Regions from separate parts of the Homo sapiens genome. Here region 2 is linked to region 1. Evidence: fine-mapped expression QTL. Tissue or cell type: whole blood. Region 1 holds a variant in brackets; the other region holds the start of a gene. All regions are shown on one strand. Distances are from middle to middle. Region 1 overlaps TRAF2 (TNF receptor associated factor 2). Region 2 holds the start of MAMDC4 (MAM domain containing 4).

Region 1 (5,000 bases):
TTCTTTTCTGGCTTATTTTAAAGCAAATGAAGATGTCATATCATTTCACCTATGAGCATTTTATTACTATTATTTTTAGAAATAGAGTCTCGCTCTGTTGCCTAGGCTAGCGTGTAGTGGTGGGATCATAGCTCACTGCAGCCTCAAACTCCTGGGCTCAAGTGATCCTCCCACCTTGGTCTCCTAAAGTGCTGGGATTACAGGTGGGAACCCACTGTGCCCGGCCATTTTACTATGTTTTAAAGAACAGTCTTTTTTATTTTTATTTTTTTATTTATTTGAGATGGAGTCTCACTCTGTCGCCCAGGCTGGAGTGCAGTGGCACGATCCCGGCTCACTGCAAGCTCCACCTCCCACGTTCACGCCATTCTTCTGCCTCAGCCTCCCGAGTAGCTAGGACTACAGGCGCTCACCACCACTCTCGGCTAATTTTTTTTGTATTTTTAGTAGAGACGGGGTTTCACTGTGTTAGCCAGGATGGTCTCAATCTCCTGAGCTCGTGATCCACCCGCCTCGGCCTCCCAAAGTGCTGGGATTACAAGGCGTTAGCCACCGCGCCTGGCCTAAAGAACAGTCTTTTAATTAAATCTAAGAACATTGACTATTTGTGCTTTCGTTTTTAGGTTTCATAAGCCAGAATAGTTGCTGAGGCTCCTCTTTGATTCAGCTTGATGGTGGCTTGTTACACACTAGTGTGGCCGAGGGCTGGGTCCTGTCCCGTCAGTGGGTAGCAGAGTGCAAGGCGCTGTTGGGTTCAGGGAGTTGGTTCCTTTAGCAGGCTTAGCTTGGGCCAGTGCCGCTGGAGGTCTTGGAGGGCTGGGCCCATGTTCCCTGGGGCGCCTCTAAGGAGTAGTTGCTGTGCCTGTGTGAAGGTTTGGGAGGAACACTCCCTGGGGAGGTTGAATGGAAGCCAGCCCAAGTGCCTGTGCTGTCCAGAGCAGGGTCTCCCCTCTTGGGGGAAGTAGCATTAACCTTTCCTGAGTCACTTGGGGCTCCTGAGCTGTAGCCAGCTCTCTATGGAGCTGCTGACCCCCACTCCCCACCCCATGAAGGGCCCCGCAGCCAGGTCCTCTGCTGCCCTGGCCTCTCAGGAACCTTCCTCTCAGCACATTGTCCTCCTCTCTCCGGGTTGTGCCCATCGGTACAGAATATGCTCTAGTCTCTCCTGTCTCAAAACTTAGTGTTGTGCTCAGTGAGCTAAGCTAGGCACAAGAAGATAAAGACTGCGTGAATTCACTGACAGAGTCCCCGGAGTGGTCAAATTGAGAGCCAATAGATGGTGCTGGGGGCTGGAGCAGGGGAATGGGGAGTTAGGGTTTAACAGGGACAGGGTTTCAGGTTTCTACAATGGGAAAGCGTGATGGAGGTAGATGGTGGTGATGGTTACATAACATCAGTGAAATGTACTTAATACCACAGAACTGTGCACTTGAAAATGGTTAAGATGATACATTTTATGTTTATCATGATTGAAGAAACAGCAGATTTTCAACTTCCTGTTCCTTTGACTTCCATTCCCTTTCTCTGTTCCCAGTCATAGCAGACTTCTCCCAAAAGACGTGTTTAACTCTGGCCAGGCACAGGGGCTCATGCCTGTAATCCCAGTACTTTGGGAGGCTTAGGTGGGCAGATTGCTTGAGCTCAGGAGTTCAAGACCAGCCTGGGTAAGATGGCTCTACCGCCGGGCGCGGTGGCTCACACCTGTAATCCCAGCACTTTGGGAGGCCAAGGCAGGTGAATCACGAGGTCAGGAGATTGAGACCATCCTGGCTAACACGGTGAAACCCTGTCTGTACTAAAAATACAAAAAAATTAGCCGGGTGTGGTGGCGGGCGCCCGTAGTCCCAGCTACTCAGGAGGCTGAGGCAGAAGAATGGCGTGAACCCAGGAGGTGGAGGTTGCTGGTTGCAGTGAGCCGAGATCGCGCCACTGCACGACAGAGCAAGATTCCATCTCAAAACAAAAACAAAAAACCAAGATGGCTCTGCCAAAAATACAAAGAAATTTAGCTGGGTGTGGTGGTGCGTGCCTGTATTCCTATAGTCCCAGCTATGTGGGTGCTGATGTCGAGGCTGCAGTGACCTGTATTCTTACCCCTGCACTCCAGCCTAGGTAACTGTATCAGTCCATTTTCATACTACTATAAAGAAATACCCGAGACTTGGGTAGTTTATAAAGAAAAAGAGGTTGAATGGACTCATAGTTCCATGTGCCTGGGGAGGCCTCACAATCATGGAGGAAGGCAAAGGAGGAGAAAGGCACGTCTCACATGGCAGCAGGCAAGAGAGCATGTGCAGGGGAACTGCCCTTTATCAAACCATCAGATCCCATGAGACTTACTATCACGAGAGCAGCACGGGAAAAACCCACCCCATGATTCAATGACCTCCCACCAGGCCCCTCCCACAACACATGGGGATTATGGGAGTTGCAATTCAAGATGAGATTTGGGTGGGGACACAGCCAAACCATATCAGTGACAAAGTGAGACCCTGTCTCAAAAAACAAAACAAAACAAAAAGCCCTGTTTAGTTTTATTTCTGTACCTCACCAGCCCCTTATGGAGGCAGGTGGGACCTCCTGTGGCTTGGGCCAGAGGCCTGAGAGTCCTTCTTGACTTCTCTGTGTTCCTGTAAGCGGCACGTTCAGTCTGCCGGCAGGTCCACGTGGCTCCCCAGACACATCCTGAATCCGGCCCTCTCTCCCGTTACACTAGCACCTTTGTAGTGCCTGCCACCCCGTTCTTCCTCCTGTGACTGCTGCGGCTTCCCAACCTTAGAGTCTGTGAGAGGTGCAGCTGCCAGGCAGTCCTGGAAGGGTTCAGCCACATCCCGTCACCTTGCTGTCCTGACCCCTCACATTCGGGCAGAGCCCTCAAGACGGTCGGGGAAGCCCTGCCTGGGGCAGCAGTGGGCTGGAGAGGTGGCTGGGTTCTGCATCCTACATTCTTGATTCTTCCTGGCCTGGGTGTGGCGAGGAGCTGGCACCGCCTCCCTTCCCTCTGTGTCCTTTTCCCTTGCCACCCTGGCCATCTGTGGACGTCCACAGTCCTCTGCCTCGCCTGA[C/T]GCTTAGCCTGCGGCACCGGCTCCCGCTTCCCTAGTCTGCAGTCTGCATCTTGTGGCACCTTCCCCGGCCCTGCCTCCACTGCCTGCCTTCCCTGGTGTTCTGGCACTGGTGGTCACTACCAGGTTGTCAGCTCCAGGAGGGCAGGGCCTCTGCCCAGCTCCTGGGTGGCTCAGTGTGTGGGAACGTGTAGGTGCCTGAGTGACCTTCCTGTGTGTCACTGGCCCTCGCCTGTCTTCCTCGCAGCTTCGGCCCTTTCAGATGCGTGTGCTGTGCAGCTAGACCCAGCTCCTGGCACCTTGGCCTGGTGGGCTTGTGCCTCAGGCCTTTGCTGGCTTCCTGGTGCTGGAGGCAGAGGCCAGCTGCCCGCATGCTATCTCCCGTGCGTGTTCCCTACCTCTTCACACCTCCCACCTGCAATGAGGATGGGGCTGGGACTGGCAAGACTCAGCCTGGACCGCGTTGGGCTTGGTCATCAGATCGAGCGTGGCCTGCTTTCTCGGTTAGGAGCTGGTGTGTGTGGCAGGGACCCGCTGGCGCAGAGCAGGGACTGTGCACTTGGCTGTTTCAGGGGGCAGATCGGGGAGCCTGGTGGTGGCAAGGCATCCACACAGAGACCCCCATGGCAGAGCATCCCCTCAGCTCAGTGTGCGGTGAAGAGAGTGGAGACGAGGACACACTGATCTGATCTCCTCCTGCCCTCCCACCTGTGGGAGCCCTGAGAGCTATCTGCAGAGGGCGGCCCCCAGGACCAGCATGCGGACACCAAGCCAGCGCTACATCGCCTTGTGTCCCCGGGTGAAGCTGTGGCTGCCCAAATGTCCCACGCGAGTTCTACTGACGCTTCCTCCTTTCGTTGCTAGAGCTGCCACGAAGGCCGCTGCCCGCTCATGCTGACCGAATGTCCCGCGTGCAAAGGCCTGGTCCGCCTTGGTGAAAAGGAGCGCCACCTGGAGCACGAGTGCCCGGAGAGAAGCCTGAGCTGCCGGCATTGCCGGGCACCCTGCTGCGGAGCAGACGTGAAGGTGCGTGGGGTGGAGCAGCAGCCTGTGTGGCTGCAGCCATGCGGGGCTGAGCTGGGGAGCTGCGTGCTGGCCACTGCGGCTGCGTCGGCCCCTTTGCACTCGTTCCACCCCCTCGGCCCTTTCCCTGGAGACACGCGGGCGGATGTTTCTTGGCAGAACTGGGAATGGGTGTGAAGTTAATGCCGAGGCCTTTCAAAAGCATTTTTGTAAGCCGGGCACGGCGGCTCACGCCTGTAATCCCAGCGCTTTGGGAGGCTGAGGCGGGCGGATCACGAGGTCCGGAGTTGAAGACCAGCCTGGCCAACATGGTGAAACCCCGTCTCTACTAAAAATGCAAAAAGTTAGCCAGGAGTGGCCAGGTGCGGCGGTTCATGCCTGTAATCCCAGCACTTTGGGAGGCCGAGGCGGGCAGATCACGAGGTCAGGAGCTCGAGACCATCCTGGCTAACATGGTGAAACCCTGTCTCTACTAAAAATACAAAAACAAAATTAGCTGGGCATGGTGGCGGGCGCCTGCAGTCCCAGCTACTCAGGAGGCTAAGGCGGGAGAATGGCGTGAACCCAGGAGGCGGAGCTTGCAGTGAGCCGAGATTGCGCCACTGCACTCCAGCCCAGGCGACAGAGCGAGATTCCGTCTCGGAAAAAAAAAAAAAAAAAAAAGCCAGGCACGGTGGCGAGTGCCTGTAATTCCAGCTACTCGGGAGGCTGAGGCAGGAGAATTGCTTGAACCCAGGAGGCAGAGGTTGCAGCGAGCCAAGACTGCACCACTGCACACTAGCCTGGGCAACAGAGGAAGACTCTGTCTCAAAAAAAAAAAAAAGAAAAAAAATTTTTAAAAAAAGTTTGTTTTTAGGACAAAAAAGCATTTTTGTCTTAGAAAAGTCTAAATGCATCAGGTAGAGAGTGCGGTGG
Region 2 (5,505 bases), 54 kb before region 1:
TGGGATTTCAGACCCCTTCGGCTGGGAGTTCCTCCCGCGGCCTCCAAGGGCGGCCAGGGCACGTCCTGAGGCCGCCCTCCCATCCCAGCGGACATCTACGACAAAGTGTCGGGCGACATGCAGAAGCAAGGCTGCGACTGTGAGTGTCTGGGCGGCGGGCGCATCTCCCACCAGAGTCAGGACAAGAAGATTCACGTGTACGGCTATTCCATGGTGAGCCGCAGCCCCGTCCCGCCCTGCCGGAGGCCCCAGTACCAGCTTCGAGGCCCACCTGAGCCTGCTGCCCTGACCCGTGGCCCCAGCTGAGCACGCAGGCTTCCTGGGGTTCTCCCAGGGTCGGCGGCAGAGCCCTCCCTCCAGGGCCCATTGTGTTCCTGCATTCCCCCATGGAGCACACGCCAGACCTGAGGGGTGGGACGGACACCCCCAGACATGGCCGGCTGTCTCCTCTCCCTGCCTTGGGAGGCCTTGCTGGGCTCTAGCTGTCCTCCAGCACTTTGGGCCCTGGGCCCCCAGAGGCAGTCAGTACCTGGGTGGAGCTCAGAGTCCCCACCTGTGCTCTTCACAAAAACCACCAGCAGATGAGACCCACGTGCGTCCCTCTGGGCGCCTCAGGCCCCAGGATCCACCATCAAGGTTTGCTTGCCTGTGGAGGTCGCCTCTCCCCAGGGGAGCCCCCAAGGGCGGTCGGGATGGTGGGTTTGGCATCCCCAGGCACTGCCTATCCCTTTCCCACACTCGCTTCTGGTGTGGCTGGTGGCTGGATGCCCAGAGCCGGGTATCGGGTTGAAGGGTCCAGGTAGTGCCAGCAGGCGTCTTCTCTTCTCCAGGCCTATGGTCCTGCCCAGCACGCCATTTCAACTGAGAAAATCAAAGCCAAGTACCCCGACTACGAGGTCACCTGGGCTAACGACGGCTACTGAGCACTCCCAGCCCGGGGCCTGCTGCCTCCAGCAGCCACTTCAGAGCCCCCGCCTTTGCCTGCACTCCTCTTGCAGGGCTGGCCCTGCCTGCTCCTGCGGCAGCCTCTGGTGACGTGCTGTCCACCAGGCCTTGGAGACAGGCTAGCCTGGCCACAGAATTAAACGTGTTGCCACACCTGCCGGCTTCTGAACTCTGTCCTTGGCTTCCTGCACCCTGCGTCACCACCTCCGGGGGCCCCCAGACCCTAACTAAAGCAGGTGGGTGGGGGAACACAGGAGTGGCCCCAGGGAGTGGCGGTGCACACTCAGCCCTTTGGGGTCTGATAAAGGGGCCCGCTGATGGCCTGACTGCTCTTCCCACGGCCATCGTCCTCCAGGGCATCTTGGAGGAGGTCTGGCAAGCCCTTGCGAGAGGAGTCAGGGCCTGGTCCCTCGGGCTGGCCAAGACCTGGGGCGCCCACCAGTGCTCCCTCCTATGAGCCCATCCCAGGGCTCCCCAGTGTCCTGTCTGCCCTGAGGCTCCTTCCGTGACCTGCAGGCTCCTTCCATGACCAGCCCCATGGGGCCTACCAGTATCCAGGGTCAGGTCGCACAGCTGCATCTACCCCACAGGCTCACGTTGACTCTGGAGGCCCCTCCCAGGTCCCTCTTGCACCCGGCAGGGCTGTGGGCAGGACACGGGTTCAGGCCTTGCCCTGGGAAGCCCCATACACAGTGGGACTCCATGGGGTGGTGCAGGGGCACCCTGGGGGCCAGGGCTGGTTGTACACAGGGCACCCCCACCTTTGTCAGCTCACTGGTCCTCCGGCCAGCCTCTCCAGACGGGCACTGTCATAACCACATTTTACAGACCGGGACACTGAGGCTCAGTGACACAAGCTCCGAGGTCACACCATGGGAAATCACAAACAGGGCCTGGCCCCAAATGCCACACTCCTTCCCCAGCCCCAAAGACCCTGCCCCAAGCATGAGTCTGCTCCATGAGAAACCGAAGTTTCTGGGCTCCTAGGGACCCTGTATCTGGCACCGGACAGCACCTGGCTGCTCAGGACGAATGAATGACGGCGTGATCCTCCACAGCCTGACTTAAAGGCAGGTTCCCCACGGCTGAGAACGCAGGGACCAGCTCTGGTGCACGTGCTGGACTCCTGCAGCTGCTGGACTGGTTGAGTCCTGACCTTGGCCAGCACCACGCTATTGCCAGAGGCACAGTGAGAGGCCACGGCGGCCTCTGCCCGCCCCACACTGCCGAGCAGAGTCCTGGTGGGGTGCCTGGGTCCCTCCCCATTCCAGTGGGAGCCTCCCCTTCACCAGGCAGGGCAGGGCAGGGTGGAAGAGCCTGACCTTGTGTCTGAGGGAGCCGGGCAGGTGGGAGCTGACCCTGGGTCAGAGGCCCCCTCCTGGGGCCACTTTCACGGCCCATGCTTGGCACCGTCAGCACTGGGTGGGGCCGGGCCGAGGGGCCCTCCACTTAACAGCAGAGTCAGCGTGCGGGGCCAGCGCAGGCTGATAACCGCACGGAACTTCCCAGGCACCCTGTGTGGCCGCACTGCTCCCTCTGGCCCAACCATGCCTCTGTCCAGCCACCTGCTGCCCGCCTTGGTCCTGTTCCTGGGTAAGTAGTCTGGTCCCACTCCTGAGGCAGGACCAGGGGCCCTGGCTTCTGAGCCTACCATCTGTGTGGCAGTGACGGACACCAGGGCTGATGCCTGAGCCCCAAAGGGAAGGAGGGTTGCAAGGTACTACCTTGGCCGGCCTGCAAGGGGGGTGACCTGGAATCAGCCCATGGGGTCCTCGGGCCTGCCAAGCAAAGGAAGAGGCACGACTCCCCTCCCAGTCTGGGACAAGAGGGCTCAGGAGGTGCCCCCAGCTCTGCCAGCCTTCATCTGCCACCCTTGGACTGGGTGGAGCTTGTGGAGGCCCTGGGCCGCCCGTCGATGCCTCCCATTGGGGGTCGCCCTCCCAGTGCCCAGTTCCCTGCTGGGCACTCTGGGTTCCTGCTACCTTTCTTGGGGTGCCCCATGGCCGGGTCCCCCTCCCCAGCCTCTTCAGGGCTGGAAACAGGAACGTGCTGTGCTTGGTCCTGAGCCGGGTGGGAGTTCTCTGTGGGTCCCAGCCCCTCCCTGCTCCATCTCCTGGTCTGAGGGGCATCCCCGGACAAAAGATGTCCAGTGCTAAAACTGAATAGTCCTAGGCAGGCTGGGATGGCTGGTCACCCTGCCCCCAGGCCACCTGGCTGTCAACCTCCCAGCAGCAGGGTCCTCAGGCTGGGCCTGGGTCCCCAACCACTGCAGGAGCCCTGGCCAGGCCGTGTGCAACTTCGTGTGTGACTGCAGGGACTGCTCAGATGAGGCCCAGTGTGGTGAGCCAAGACCAGATGGGCGGGCAGGGCCAGTGCGAGCAGGTCTGGCACACACCTGACCACCCACTCTCCCAGGTTACCACGGGGCCTCGCCCACCCTGGGCGCCCCCTTCGCCTGTGACTTCGAGCAGGACCCCTGCGGCTGGCGGGACATTAGTACCTCAGGCTACAGCTGGCTCCGAGACAGGGCAGGGGCCGCACTGGAGGGTCCTGGGCCTCACTCAGACCACACACTGGGCACCGACTTGGGTGAGGCCAGGGCAAGTCTCTGTGCGCCCCTGTCCCAATACCCTCCTTGCTCCCTGCCCCGTCTCCTGACCTCTCACCTGCGCCAGGCTGGTACATGGCCGTTGGAACCCACCGAGGGAAAGAGGCATCCACCGCAGCCCTGCGCTCGCCAACCCTGCGAGAGGCAGCCTCCTCTTGCAAGCTGAGGCTCTGGTACCACGCGGCCTCTGGAGGTGCACCCTGGACCCCCAAGGCTCGTGGGGGGTGCCCAAGGGGAGGGCGGGTGGGCAGCTGGGGACAAGCAGGGCCGCAGCTGCCCTGGGACCCCTGACATTGCAGATGTGGCTGAACTGCGGGTGGAGCTGACCCATGGCGCAGAGACCCTGACCCTGTGGCAGAGCACAGGGCCCTGGGGCCCTGGCTGGCAGGAGTTGGCAGTGACCACAGGCCGCATCCGGGGTGACTTCCGAGTGAGCTGGGAGGGTCTGGACGAGTGGGGGCCTTGAGGAGGGGTCTGGGCCCTGACTTAGGTCCTAAGAGCCTGTTCTCTTCAGGTGACCTTCTCTGCCACCCGAAATGCCACCCACAGGGGCGCTGTGGCTCTAGATGACCTAGAGTTCTGGGACTGTGGTCTGCCCAGTAAGGCACCGCCTCTTCCTGTTCCACCCCCGGGAGGGCCCCCACCTGCCCACTCCCCTGCTCAGACCCTGTCTGCCCCCGAGTGCTCTCCCACTCCTGGGGCCTCGGTGAAGGGTTAACCCTGCCCCACCCAGCCCCCCAGGCCAACTGTCCCCCGGGACACCACCACTGCCAGAACAAGGTCTGCGTGGAGCCCCAGCAGCTGTGCGACGGGGAAGACAACTGCGGGGACCTGTCTGATGAGAACCCACTCACCTGTGGTGAGGCCGGAGTGGGGGCCCAGAGTGAGGCTGGGAGACTGGACGCCTCGGTGGGGGCCCTGGCACTCATCCAGGAGGGGGTGCCTTGGATCCTTGGATGGTCCTTCTTGGGGTGTGGTTGCCAGGGCCCCCCTGGAGCTGGGGCCATACGGCTTCAGGAAGCACTGCCTGGTGGCCCTGACACGCCCACCTCCTGCCCTAGGCCGCCACATAGCCACCGACTTTGAGACAGGCCTGGGCCCATGGAACCGCTCGGAAGGCTGGTCCCGGAACCACCGCGCTGGTGGTCCTGAGCGCCCCTCCTGGCCACGCCGTGACCACAGCCGGAACAGTGCACAGGGTGAGGCCCACAGAGGACCCGGCCCAGGCCCTGCCCACGCAGCCACAGCCCAGTGGCCCTGGCCCACTCCCGTCCTTTCCCGCAGGCTCCTTCCTGGTCTCCGTGGCCGAGCCTGGCACCCCTGCTATACTCTCCAGCCCCGAATTCCAAGCCTCAGGCACCTCCAACTGCTCGGTGAGATGGGTGGGGCTCACAGGGCCTCCCTGCTCTCCGTGCTGGCTGCCCCGGTGCAGGCCCCCAGCCAGCTCTTGGTTCCACAGCTGGTCTTCTATCAGTACCTGAGTGGGTCTGAGGCTGGCTGCCTCCAGCTGTTCCTGCAGACTCTGGGGCCCGGCGCCCCCCGGGCCCCCGTCCTGCTGCGGAGGCGCCGAGGGGAGCTGGGGACCGCCTGGGTCCGAGACCGTGTTGACATCCAGAGCGCCTACCCCTTCCAGGTAGGGAACAGCAAGAGGGTGGGGTCTGGGGAGCCGCACTGTGGGCAGGGGAGGGGAACCCACAAGGTACCCACTGCGGGTGGACAGGGACCAGACCCCAGGGGGAAATAGGCTGGGCACCCCCTGAGCCCCTCTGCCCTCAGATCCTCCTGGCCGGGCAGACAGGCCCGGGGGGCGTCGTGGGTCTGGACGACCTCATCCTGTCTGACCACTGCAGACCAGTCTCGGGTGAGCCTGCTGACTCTGCCCTACCCTGCCTTGCCCTGGAGAGGCACAGCACTCCCCATCCCTGCCTCCTGACACCAGTTCTGCCCCCACA

Evidence for each region. PIP is the estimated chance that this variant, and not a neighbour inherited with it, causes the effect.
Region 2: it holds the start of MAMDC4, and the variant in region 1 is the best candidate, but not a certain one, in a credible set for the expression of MAMDC4 in whole blood (TOPMed, PIP 0.50).

What each region holds. Positions count from the first base shown.
Region 1 is chr9:136,904,144-136,909,143 of GRCh38, forward strand. It overlaps TRAF2 (TNF receptor associated factor 2), which reads left to right. Exons shown (of 11, transcript NM_021138.4): 5 at 3,927-4,088. Among named protein-coding and RNA genes, the nearest start is that of MIR4479, 20 kb to the left of the region's middle. The variant C/T (reference allele first, on the strand shown) is at 3,066.
Region 2 is chr9:136,849,925-136,855,429 of GRCh38, forward strand. MAMDC4 (MAM domain containing 4) reads left to right here and starts at 2,422. Exons shown (of 27, transcript NM_206920.3): 1 at 2,422-2,538; 2 at 3,178-3,285; 3 at 3,361-3,534; 4 at 3,621-3,746; 5 at 3,853-3,983; 6 at 4,068-4,152; 7 at 4,287-4,412; 8 at 4,615-4,752; 9 at 4,838-4,926; 10 at 5,013-5,186; 11 at 5,330-5,414. The coding sequence starts at 2,493. It overlaps PHPT1 (phosphohistidine phosphatase 1), which reads left to right. Exons shown (of 3, transcript NM_014172.6): 2 at 89-213; 3 at 831-1,100. The coding sequence ends at 923.